2 separate regions of the Homo sapiens genome follow, and region 1 is linked to region 2. The links come from fine-mapping of genetic effects on gene expression. Tissue or cell type: whole blood. Region 2 holds a variant in brackets; the other region holds the start of a gene. All regions are shown on one strand. Distances are between the middles of the regions.

Evidence for each region. PIP is the estimated chance that this variant, and not a neighbour inherited with it, causes the effect. A credible set is the group of variants that fine-mapping cannot tell apart.
Region 1: it holds the start of NDUFB6, and the variant in region 2 is the best candidate, but not a certain one, in a credible set for the expression of NDUFB6 in whole blood (INTERVAL, PIP 0.83).

Annotation. Positions count from the first base shown.
Region 1 is chr9:32,570,901-32,576,121 of GRCh38, forward strand. NDUFB6 (NADH:ubiquinone oxidoreductase subunit B6) reads right to left here and starts at 2,259. Exons shown (of 4, transcript NM_002493.5): 1 at 1,981-2,259; 2 at 60-152. The coding sequence starts at 2,160. RefSeq lists enhancers at 1,807-2,346, 2,617-2,666.
Region 2 is chr9:32,507,731-32,512,951 of GRCh38, forward strand. The region is part of intron 1 of RIGI (RNA sensor RIG-I); the gene reads right to left. Among named protein-coding and RNA genes, the nearest start is that of RIGI, 16 kb to the right of the region's middle. RefSeq lists enhancers at 350-1,068, 1,069-1,785. The variant G/A (reference allele first, on the strand shown) is at 3,200.

The DNA of each region.
Region 1 (5,221 bases), 63 kb after region 2:
CCACAAAGAAAGTAATTTTGGACAATATTAAAAATGAATTCTGAAAAGGACATACTTACAGAAACATGATACTTCATGTAATAATGAATAATCCAGACAGGTACAAGTACATGAGTGAAAACAAAGATACTCTTTTTGTATACCCCATGGACCTGGGGGGAAAAACACATACACAAAATAAACATATCCCATTTTTTATATTTATGGCAGAACAAAAGGCATCAATGATGTAACAATGCCATGACTATTTTACAAAACTCTAAATGGCACATATTTTCTTATAGTCTGTAGGTAACCTCATCTACTCAAATATTCTTAGTAAATGCAGAGTCTGCTAGAAGATACCTACAAAGTCCAGACCAAAATGCTTAAGCAGTATTTTGCAAGACTATAACAAGGCATTTATAGATTTTTTAAAGACTTCCAAAAATATCCTTATTATAAGTTTGTTAAAGATAAAATATAGCAAAATAATGAAAGAATAATTTTAATGTATTTAACCAGAGTAATCAAACCTACAGAATTTTTCAGGTATAGTCATCTCCCTTATTTATTGATCAATGACACTCACATCATTTTAGGTATAAGGCAGACAACCTTGACAACGCCAATGCTGGAAAAAGGACGTTTTACATACTAAGATGGGGTGTCCCAAACTCACTCCAAAATGCCCTCTGCAACACTATTTTAAAAAAGAACTAAAAATGGAACTTTCCCATGTCTTCCAACTTGATTAAAAAACACCTATCCATTCAAGGAAGGGACAATCCAGAATCTAAGAATTATAACAGATATGATTATAAAAGAATAAATTAAAGTAAGGTAAGGTGAACTTCGACACATTATTATTTATTTACTTCCTTATATCACTTGCTGATGGATGGGATGTCAACTTTAAATCAGTGACTGCCAATATTCCGATAATGTCAGGGATACAAAGGGTGGGAGAAGAGTTGAATTTTACCACCATAAATAAGTATCCAATATCACTTTCTCAGAAAAATTTTCAACAATTCTATTGCACTAGACTTTGTAGCACAGTAAGAATCAGATACATGTTGATTACAATATGAACTCATATTCAATTCCTAGCTCCCTGACCACCAGCAAATCACTGAAGCTTTGTAGGCCTCAGTTTCTTCACATTTAAAATGAGGATTAGGAATATCTACCTTACAGGAATAAAGAAATGAAGTAACACATGTAAAACCCCCAGTAGAGTGCCAAGCACACAGCAAGCACCCGTGTGTTACGTAGTATTGTTACTACTATTATCCTGTCATCAGTAAGTGTTGCAGGTAACTGAAAGCAATTCTGAGATGTTTATCATCCATAACAGTCCTCAAGAAAATACCCAGAGGCCTTGAAAATAAAGTTCTTGAATGAGTGATTTTCTTCAAAGCCCAAAATGCGATTTTTTTAATGAAACACTGTGTTAAAAGTACAGAACGGTAGTTTAGAAAGGTAGCTCTTGAATGTGACTCACAAGGCATACCAACAGGACCCTGTCTTTTACGGGGATCACATGGGGCTGTACTATCAGCTAGGGGCTGGCTGTGCCCTCTGGTGGTTGGATACTGTGTTACTTGGTCTCTAGAACCTCACACTTAAAAGTCAGACAAGTGTCCTCAAATACTTAAATCACAGAATTTTAATTCTAGCGAGTCCTTGGTTATTATTCTGAGGGAAGATTTCTACAGTCAAAAGAGAACCAAACGTGCAGCGTCCTGGAAAACCTAAGTATTAAAATTCGCCCCCGTCCACTGTACTTGACAGTAAAAGGCATGATTCTCTCAAAGCCATACATATTCCTGGACTCCTGCCTCCCGAGACTCCAGGAGGACTCTCGGGACTGGCCAGTGTCCCAGAGCACTGAGCGTTATCAGTCCTTGGTGTGGCTGCAGGGAGCGGACGTTCAGTGTTCAGGCTGCCGGCAGCAGTGGGATGTGTTGGGGGGGACCGGAGAGGTCTGTCACTCACCATTTTCCTCCAAGGGGATTTATTCTCCAAAAATTTATTCCAGAATTTCTCCATAGGCCCCATCTTCTGTGGGGGCAGCACCGGCTCCCGAGGGCTCAGCTCCTGGTCCTTCAGCCATCGCCTTCTCAGCTCTCGCAGCTGCTGCAGCCGCAGTTTCTCATCCGGAGTGTACCCCGTCATGTCGCCGCTGGTACCAACGCAAAAGGACACGGCGCACCCTCGAACTACGGACTAGTTACTTAAGCGCGCTCCCGCTCTGCAAAGCGACCTTGCGGGAACGCCGAGCGCCGCGCGCGGTTATTACGTCACATCCTGGTTCCGCCTCTGCAAGGGCCCCAGATTCCTCGCGAGGAAAGCAGTGTGTGGGCATGCACAAAGGTCTCCACCTCCAGTTCTCTCTACGCCCACCTCCGCTATACCCGACCAAATTAGGACCGGGTGGGGACAAGGAGTACTCGTAGTTGTGGGGCCTGAGGAAAGTGACAGATTAGACGAAAGTATGCTAAATTAGAGGACTGGAGGTTTTGCTAAGGAAGAACTTGTATGCTGGGAGGAGGAAGGATAAGCATAAATGTTTCAGTGAATATGCTGGCCAGATTCAAAATTATTTGCTTGCCTCTCCCACCTTGGAATGACCTAGAGAGTGTATGAAAATAGTTACATCCCAGTTCAAATCCCAGCTATGCCAGTAACTGCTGAAGTGCCCTGGGCAGCTGTCTCATCTGTCCCTCCATCTGTACAGGAATAGTGAAAAGAGTAGCTTAATATCTAGCAAAATTGCATAGATGAATTCATGCTTTCACCCAAAAATACGTGTGGTGAAAATATGAAAGAGCATGCACGACTATTCAGCACGATTCATAATACCAAAATATTGGAAATTACCCCCAAATTCCTAAATAAAGGACTGCTTGAATAAATTGTAGTACAACAGTCAAAAGACAGCATTACAACGAATTAGTTTAAAAATCTTAATTGACTCTTATTCGTGATTCTAGAATCAAAAAACACCTCATTCTATAAAGTAGAATGAGTGTTCTGATCAGCTGAGCAGAGGCGGTTGGTTTTATTGGCAAATAGGGGCTGAAGAAAGCAGAAACCGAACAAAAAGTGGACTCATCGTTTCAAAGTTACTTTTAGGGTTAAAGCAGAAGAAACTTCCTTGTTTCACTGACTCAGACTTAAGGGAATTTCCTATTTTTTGGGAAACTGGCCCATTTCAAAGTTCAGTTTGATTGTGTGGTACTTAGCACAAACGACTCCATTCTGGTTTGGTCTGGTCTGCTGGGGCCTAGTGCGTGAAGCTAGTCCAAAACAGTGGCTTCCCAAAAACTTTCACACAACAAAGCAATGAAATGCTAATACAATCGTCAAAAGTAATAAGGAAGAACTCTATATACATCTGTGGTGTGATCTCCAGAATACATTACAAAGTGGAAAAAAAATGGATAGGAATTTGTACAGTATGCTTTTACCCAAAAAGAGAAAGATGGTGGTAATTTCAATATATATACATATTTTCTTAAATTTTCAAAATAATGGGAATGAAAACAATTGAGGTTTTTAAAGATGCTACCTATGGTGGAGGAAATAAATAGGATAGAGGAGACAGGGATAGAATCTAGACATCTCTGGAAACATCTTACTTCATAAATTTGACTTTAGAACCAAGTAAATATTTCATATTGTGAAATTAAATTTAGCTTAAAGATGTCTCCGTATTTTGAGTCCTTATATAATGAACTGCAACCCAACTTAGTATGCAATTTAACTCACAGCCTAACTTAGGAATATACTTCTGTAACAAATAACTGAGTCTCAGCCAATCATCACAGGTGGTCAACTGATCAGCCCATGTTCAAATAAGGCAAAGGCCAACCTGTAGCCAATCAAGCTGTTTCTGTATCTCATTTCTGTTTTTTTTCTATGCGTGCTGCCTGGCCTCTTTGTGGAACGATACTTTCTGAACCTCCTCTGGTTCTGAGGGCTGCCTGATTCTCAAATTGGTCATTGCTCAATTAATTTCTGCTAAATTTAATTTTTCTAAAGTTTTAATTTTAACAATATCATTACAAAACAAAATTAAATTTACAAAAAGCAGTCCATAAAAATCAAGTAAAAACCAGTAGCTCTTAATTGGTCCACTTGGTGGCATAATCTCAAAGGTACACATCATTCTAAATACAATAGCCCTTGTAACAACGCTAGGGTTAGTAGTGCCAATCCCCTCCACTTGGCACAATCAAACATCCACATATAACTTTGGACTCTCCAAAAACTTAATAGCCTACTCTTGACCAGAAGTTTTACTGATAACATACAGTCAATTAACACACATTTTGTATATGTATTATATGCTATATTATTACAATAAAGTAAGCCAGAGAAAATAAACTGTTATTAAGAAAATCATAAGGAGGCAAAGAGAGGGGTTGGTCTTGCTGTCTTGGGGTGCCAGAGGCAGAAGAAAATCCACGTATGATGGACCCTCGAAGTTCAACCTGTTTTTTTCAAGGATCAACTATAACTTTAAACCATTGAATTATTGTAAATCCACTGAGAGACAACCCGCAAAAACAAACAAAAAAAAAACAACTTAAAAAAAATCTTGGCCAGGCGTGGTGGCTCACGCCTGTAATCCCAGCACTTTGGGAGGCCAAGGCGGGTGGATCACAAGGTCAGGAGATCGAGACCTTCCTAGCTAACACAGTGAAACCCCGTCTCTACTAAAAATACAAAAATTAGCCAGGTGTGGTGGCAGGCGCCTGTAGTCCTAGCTACTCGGGAGGCTGAGGCAGGAGAATGGCATGAACCTGGGAGGCGGAGCTTGCAGTGAGCCGAGATCGCGCCACTGCACTCCAGCCTGGGTGACAGAGAGAGGCTCCGTCTCAAAAAAAAAAAAAAAAAATCTTAAACTGTTTTAAATAATCATATTGAGGATAGTGGTGTTGATCATGGTATTGTTAATCTGACACTGAAAATAACTGTTTACGTGAGTGTTGTAAAAACTGATCTTTTTTGGTATGGGGAGACATGTATATAAATTGTATGTGTTTAAGTAAAAATCCTATAGTCAAATTGTGAACAGGAAGAATCAGTATGAACTCATATTGTATTTTATCTTTAAAAATGTATATAATTTTGTCTTAGCTCTACCTGTTGATAATGGCCTAAAAGAAATTGGCAAACCAATAATCATGAGCATCTTTTGTTCTTAGGTTGTGATCTCTCATGTACATTT
Region 2 (5,221 bases):
AATTTTCGGGGCTCAAGCAATCCTCCCACCTCAGGTTCCCAAAGTGCTGGAATTACAGGCATGAGCTGCCAAGTCTGGCCCCCATTTTTATTTTTTATGTTATTAGACTTTACATGGGTCTCTGGCAGATGACCAAAACCTGGATTCTGCTTTCTGACTCATTCACACCTATTTAAAAGATGTTTGACCTAATTACATGGCCATAGCTGATATAACTAGTTTTCCTTGTGTTATCTTGTTTATATTTCCCTTTCCTATATTTTCTGGTTAGCTTAAATTACTAGTTTCTTTTCTCCTCTCAAGAACAACAAAACATATAAAACCTCATTTAAATGGTATCATTATCTGTAACCATTCATATAGCTTTTTAAAACTACAGAAGCAAGTGGAAAATGGTAATATTTTAAGTCTCCCCCTTTTGAGGCAAGGGATTTAACTCTTATTTATCATAATTTTCCCTAGCTCCTAACAGACTCAATCTAAAATTTTAAACCAAAGTATTTACTTAATTTTTTTTTTTTTTTTTTTACTATATGAAAATCCTCTCTTAAAAAATGCTTGACTAGGAACCAGGGCAAGATGGCCAAAAAAGGAACAGCTCCGGTCTGCAGCTCACAGAGAGATCAACACAGAAGGCGGGTGATTTCTGCATTTCCAACAGAGGTACCCGGTTCACCTCACTGGGACTGGATAGACAGTGGGTGCAGCCCACAGACAGCGAGCTGAAGCAGGGTAGGGTGTCACCTCACCTGGGAAGCACAAGGGGTCTGGGAACTCCCTCCCCTAGCCAAGGGAAGCCATGAGGGACTGTGCCATGAGGAACAGTGCACCCTGGCCCAGATACTATGCTTTTCCCCCCAAGTCTTCGCAACCAGCAGACCAGGAGATTCCCTCCGGTGCCTATGCCACCAGGGATCTGGGTTTCAAGCACAAATCTGGGTGGCCATTTGGGCAGACACTGAGCTAGCTGCAGTTTTTTTTTTCATACCTCAGTGACACCTGGAATGCCAGCAAGACAGAACCATTCACTCTCCTGGAAAGGGGGCTGAAGCCAGGGAGCCAAGTGGTCTAGCACAGCAAATCCCACCCCTACAGAGCCCAGCAAGCTAAAATCCACTAGCTTGAAATTCTCGCTGCCAGCACAACAATCTGAAGTTGACCTGGGATGCTCAAGCTTGGTTGGGGGAGGGGCATCCACAATTACTGAGGCTTGAGTAGGCCCTATTCCCCTCACAGTGTAAACAAAGCCACCAGGAAGTTCAAACTGGGTAGACCCTACTGCAGCTTGGCAAAGCCACTATAGCTAGACTGCCTCTCTAGATTCCTCACTCTAGGCAGGGCATCTCTGAAAAAAAGCCAGCAGCCCCACTCAGGGGCTTACAGATAAAACTCCCATTTCCCTGGGAGAGGGCACCTGGGGAAAAGGGCAGCTGTGGGCACAGCTTCAGCAGACTTAAATGTTGCTGCCTGCTGGCTCTGAAGAGAGCAACAGATCTCCCAGCACAGTGCTTGAGCTCTGCTAACGGACAGACTGCCTCCTTAAGTGGGTCCCTGATACCTGTGCCTCCTGGTGGGGAGACACCTCCTACCAGGGTCAACAGACACCTCATACAGGAGAGCTCCAGCTGGCATCTGGCAGGTGCCCCTCTGGGAGGAAGCTTCCAAAGGAAGGAACAGGCAGCAATCTTTGCTGTTCTGCAGCCTCCACTGGTGATACCCAGGCAAACAGGGTCTGGAGTGGACATCCAGCAAACTCCAGCAGACCTGCAGCTGAGGGGCCTGTTAGAAGGAAAACTAACAAACAGGAATATCATCAATATCAACGAAAAGGACATCCACACAGATAACTCATCTGAAGGTCACCAACATGAAAGACCAAGGGCAGATAAATCCATGAAGATGAGGAAACGCCAGTGCAAAAAGGCAGAAAAAAAATGTGATCCTCTTCTCCTCCAAAGGATCACAACTCCTTGCCAGCAACGGAACAAAACTGGACGGAGAATGAGTTTGACAAATTGACAGAAGTAGGCTTCAGAAGGTGGGTAATAAGAAACTCCTCTGAGCTAAAGGAGCATGTTCTAACCCAATGCAAGGAAGCTACAAACCTTGAAAAAAGGTTAGAGGAGTGACAACTAGAATAACCAGTTTAGAGAAGGACCTGAATGACCTGATGTAGCCAAAAAACACAGCACGAGAACTTTGTGAAGCATACACAACTATCAATAGCTGAATCAATCAAGCAGAAGAAAGGATATCAGAGATTGAAGATGAATTTAATGAAATAAAGCATGAAGACAAGATTAGAGAAAAAAAGAATGAAAAGGAATGAACAAAGCTTCCAAGAAATATGGGACTATGTGAAAAGACCAAACCTATGTTTGATTGGTGTACCCGAAAGTGACGGGGAGAATGGAACCAAGTTGGAAAACTCTCGTCAGGATGTTATCCAGGAGAACGTCCCCAACCTAGCAATACAGGCCAACATTCAAATTCAGGAAATACAGAGAACACCACAAAGATACTCCTCGAGAAGAACAACCCCAAGACACATAATCATCAGATTCACCAAGGTTGAAATGGAGGAAAAATGTTAGGTGCAGCCAGAGAGAAAGGTTGAGTTACTCACAAAGGGAAGCCCATCAGACTAACAGCAGATCTCTCTGTAGAAACCCTACAAGCCAGAAGAGAGTGGGGGCCAATATTCAACATTCTTAAAGACAAGAATTTTCAACCCAGAATTTCATATACAGCCAAACTAAGATTTATAAGCAAAGAAGAAATAAAATCCTTTACAGACAAGCAAATGCTGAGAGATTTTGTCACCACCAGGCCTGCCTTACAAGAGCTCCTGAAGGAAGCACTAAATATGGAAAGGAAAACTGGTACCAGCCACTGCAAAAACATACCAAATTGTAAAGACCATCGACACTATGAAGAAACTGCATCAACTAACAGGCAAAATAACCAGCTAGCATCATAATGACAGGATCAAATTCACACATAACAATATTAACCTTAAGTGTGAATGGGCTAAATGCCCCAATTAAAAGACACAGACTGGCAAATTGGATAAAGAGTCAAGACCCATTGGTGTGCTGTATTCAGGAGACCCATCTCACATGTAAAGACACACATAGGCTCAAAATACAGGGATGGAGGAAGATTTACCAAGCAAATGGAAAGAAAAAAAAAAAGCAGG[G/A]GTTGCAATCCCAGTCTCTGATAAAACAGATTTTAAACCAACAAAGATCAAAAAAGAGAAAGAAGGGCATTATATAATAGTAAAGGGATCAATGCAACAAGAAGAGCTAACTATGCTAAATACATATGCACCCAATACAGGAATACCCAGATTCATAAAGCAAGTTCTTACAGACCTACAAAGAGACTTAGACTCCCACACAATAATAGTGGGAGACTTTAACACCCCACTGTCAATAATAGATCAACAAAACAGAAAATTAACAAGAATATTCAGGACTTGAACTCAGCTCTGGACAAAGCTGACCTAGTAGACATCTACAGAACTCTCCACCCCAGATGAATAGAATATACATTCTTCTCAGCACCACATCATACTTATTCTAAAATTGACCACATAATAGGAAATAAAACACTCCTCAGCAAATGCAAAAGAACGGAAATCATAACAGTCTGTCAGAACACAGTGCAATCAAATTAGAACTGAGGATTAAGAAACTCACTCAAAACTGCACAACTACATGGAAACTGAACAACCTGCTCCTGAATGACTACAGGGTAAATATGAAATGAAGGCAGAAATAAATAAGTTCTTTGAAACCAATGAGAACAAAGACACAACGTACCAGAATCTCTGGGACACATTTAAAGCAGTGTGTAGATGGAAATTTATAGCACTAAATGCCCACAGGAGAAAGAGGGAAAGATCTAAAATCAACATCATAATATCACAATTAAAAGAACCAGAGAAGCAAGAGCAAACAAATTCAAAAGCTAGCAAAAGACAAGAAATAACTAAGATCAGAGCAGAACTGAAGGAGATAGAGACACAGAAAACCCTTCAAAAAAATCAGTGAATCCAGGAGCTGGTTTTTTGAAAAGATTAACAAATATATAGACCACAAGCCAGTTTAATAAAGAAGAAGAGAGAGATGACTCAAATAGATACAATAAAAATAATAAAGGGGATGTCACCAGTGATCCCACAGAAATACAAACTACCATCACAGAATACTATAAACACCTCTACACAAATACACTAGAAAATCTAGAAGAAATGGATAAATTCCTAGACACATATACCCTCCAAGACTAAACCAGGAAGAAGTCAAATCCCTGAAGAGACCAATAACAAGTTGTGGCAGTAATGGCCTACCAACCAAAAAAAGCCCAGGACCAGATGGATTCACAGCTGAATTCTACCAGAGGTACAAAGAGGAGCTTATACCATTCCTTCTGAAACTATTCCCAACAATAGAAAAAGAGGGACTCCTCCCTAACTCATTTTATGAGGCCAACATCACCCTGATACCAAAACCTGGCAGAGGCAAAACCAAAAAAGAAAATTTCAGGCCAATATTCCTGATGAACATTGATGCAAAAATCCTCAATAAAATACTGGCAAACTGAATCCAGCAGCATATCAAAAAGCTTATTCACCATAATCAGGTCTGCTTCATCCCTGGGATACAAGGCTGGTTCAACATATACAAATCAATAAATGTAATCCATCACATAAACAGAACTAATGACAAAAACCACATGATTATCTCAATAGATGCAGAAAACGCCGTTGATAAAATTCAACAGCCCTTCATGCTAAAAACTCTCAATAAACTAGGTATTGATGGAATGTATCTCAGAATAATAAAGAGCTATTTATGACAAACCCACAGCCAATATCATACTGAATGGGCAAAAGTTGGAAGCATTTCCTTTGAAAACCAGCACAAGACAAAGATGCCCTCTCTCCCCACTCCTATTCAACATACTGTTGGAAGTTCTGGCCAGAGCAATTAGGCAAGAGAAAGAAATAAAGGGTATTCAATTAGGAAAACAGAAAGTCCAATTGTCCCTGTTGGCAGATGACATGATTGTATATCTAGAAAACCCCATCATCTCAGCCCAAAATCTCCTTAAGCTGATAAGCAACTTCAGCAAAGTCTCAGGATACAAAATCAATGTGCAAAAATCACAAGCATTCCTATACACCAATAACAGACAAACAGAGAGCCAAATCATG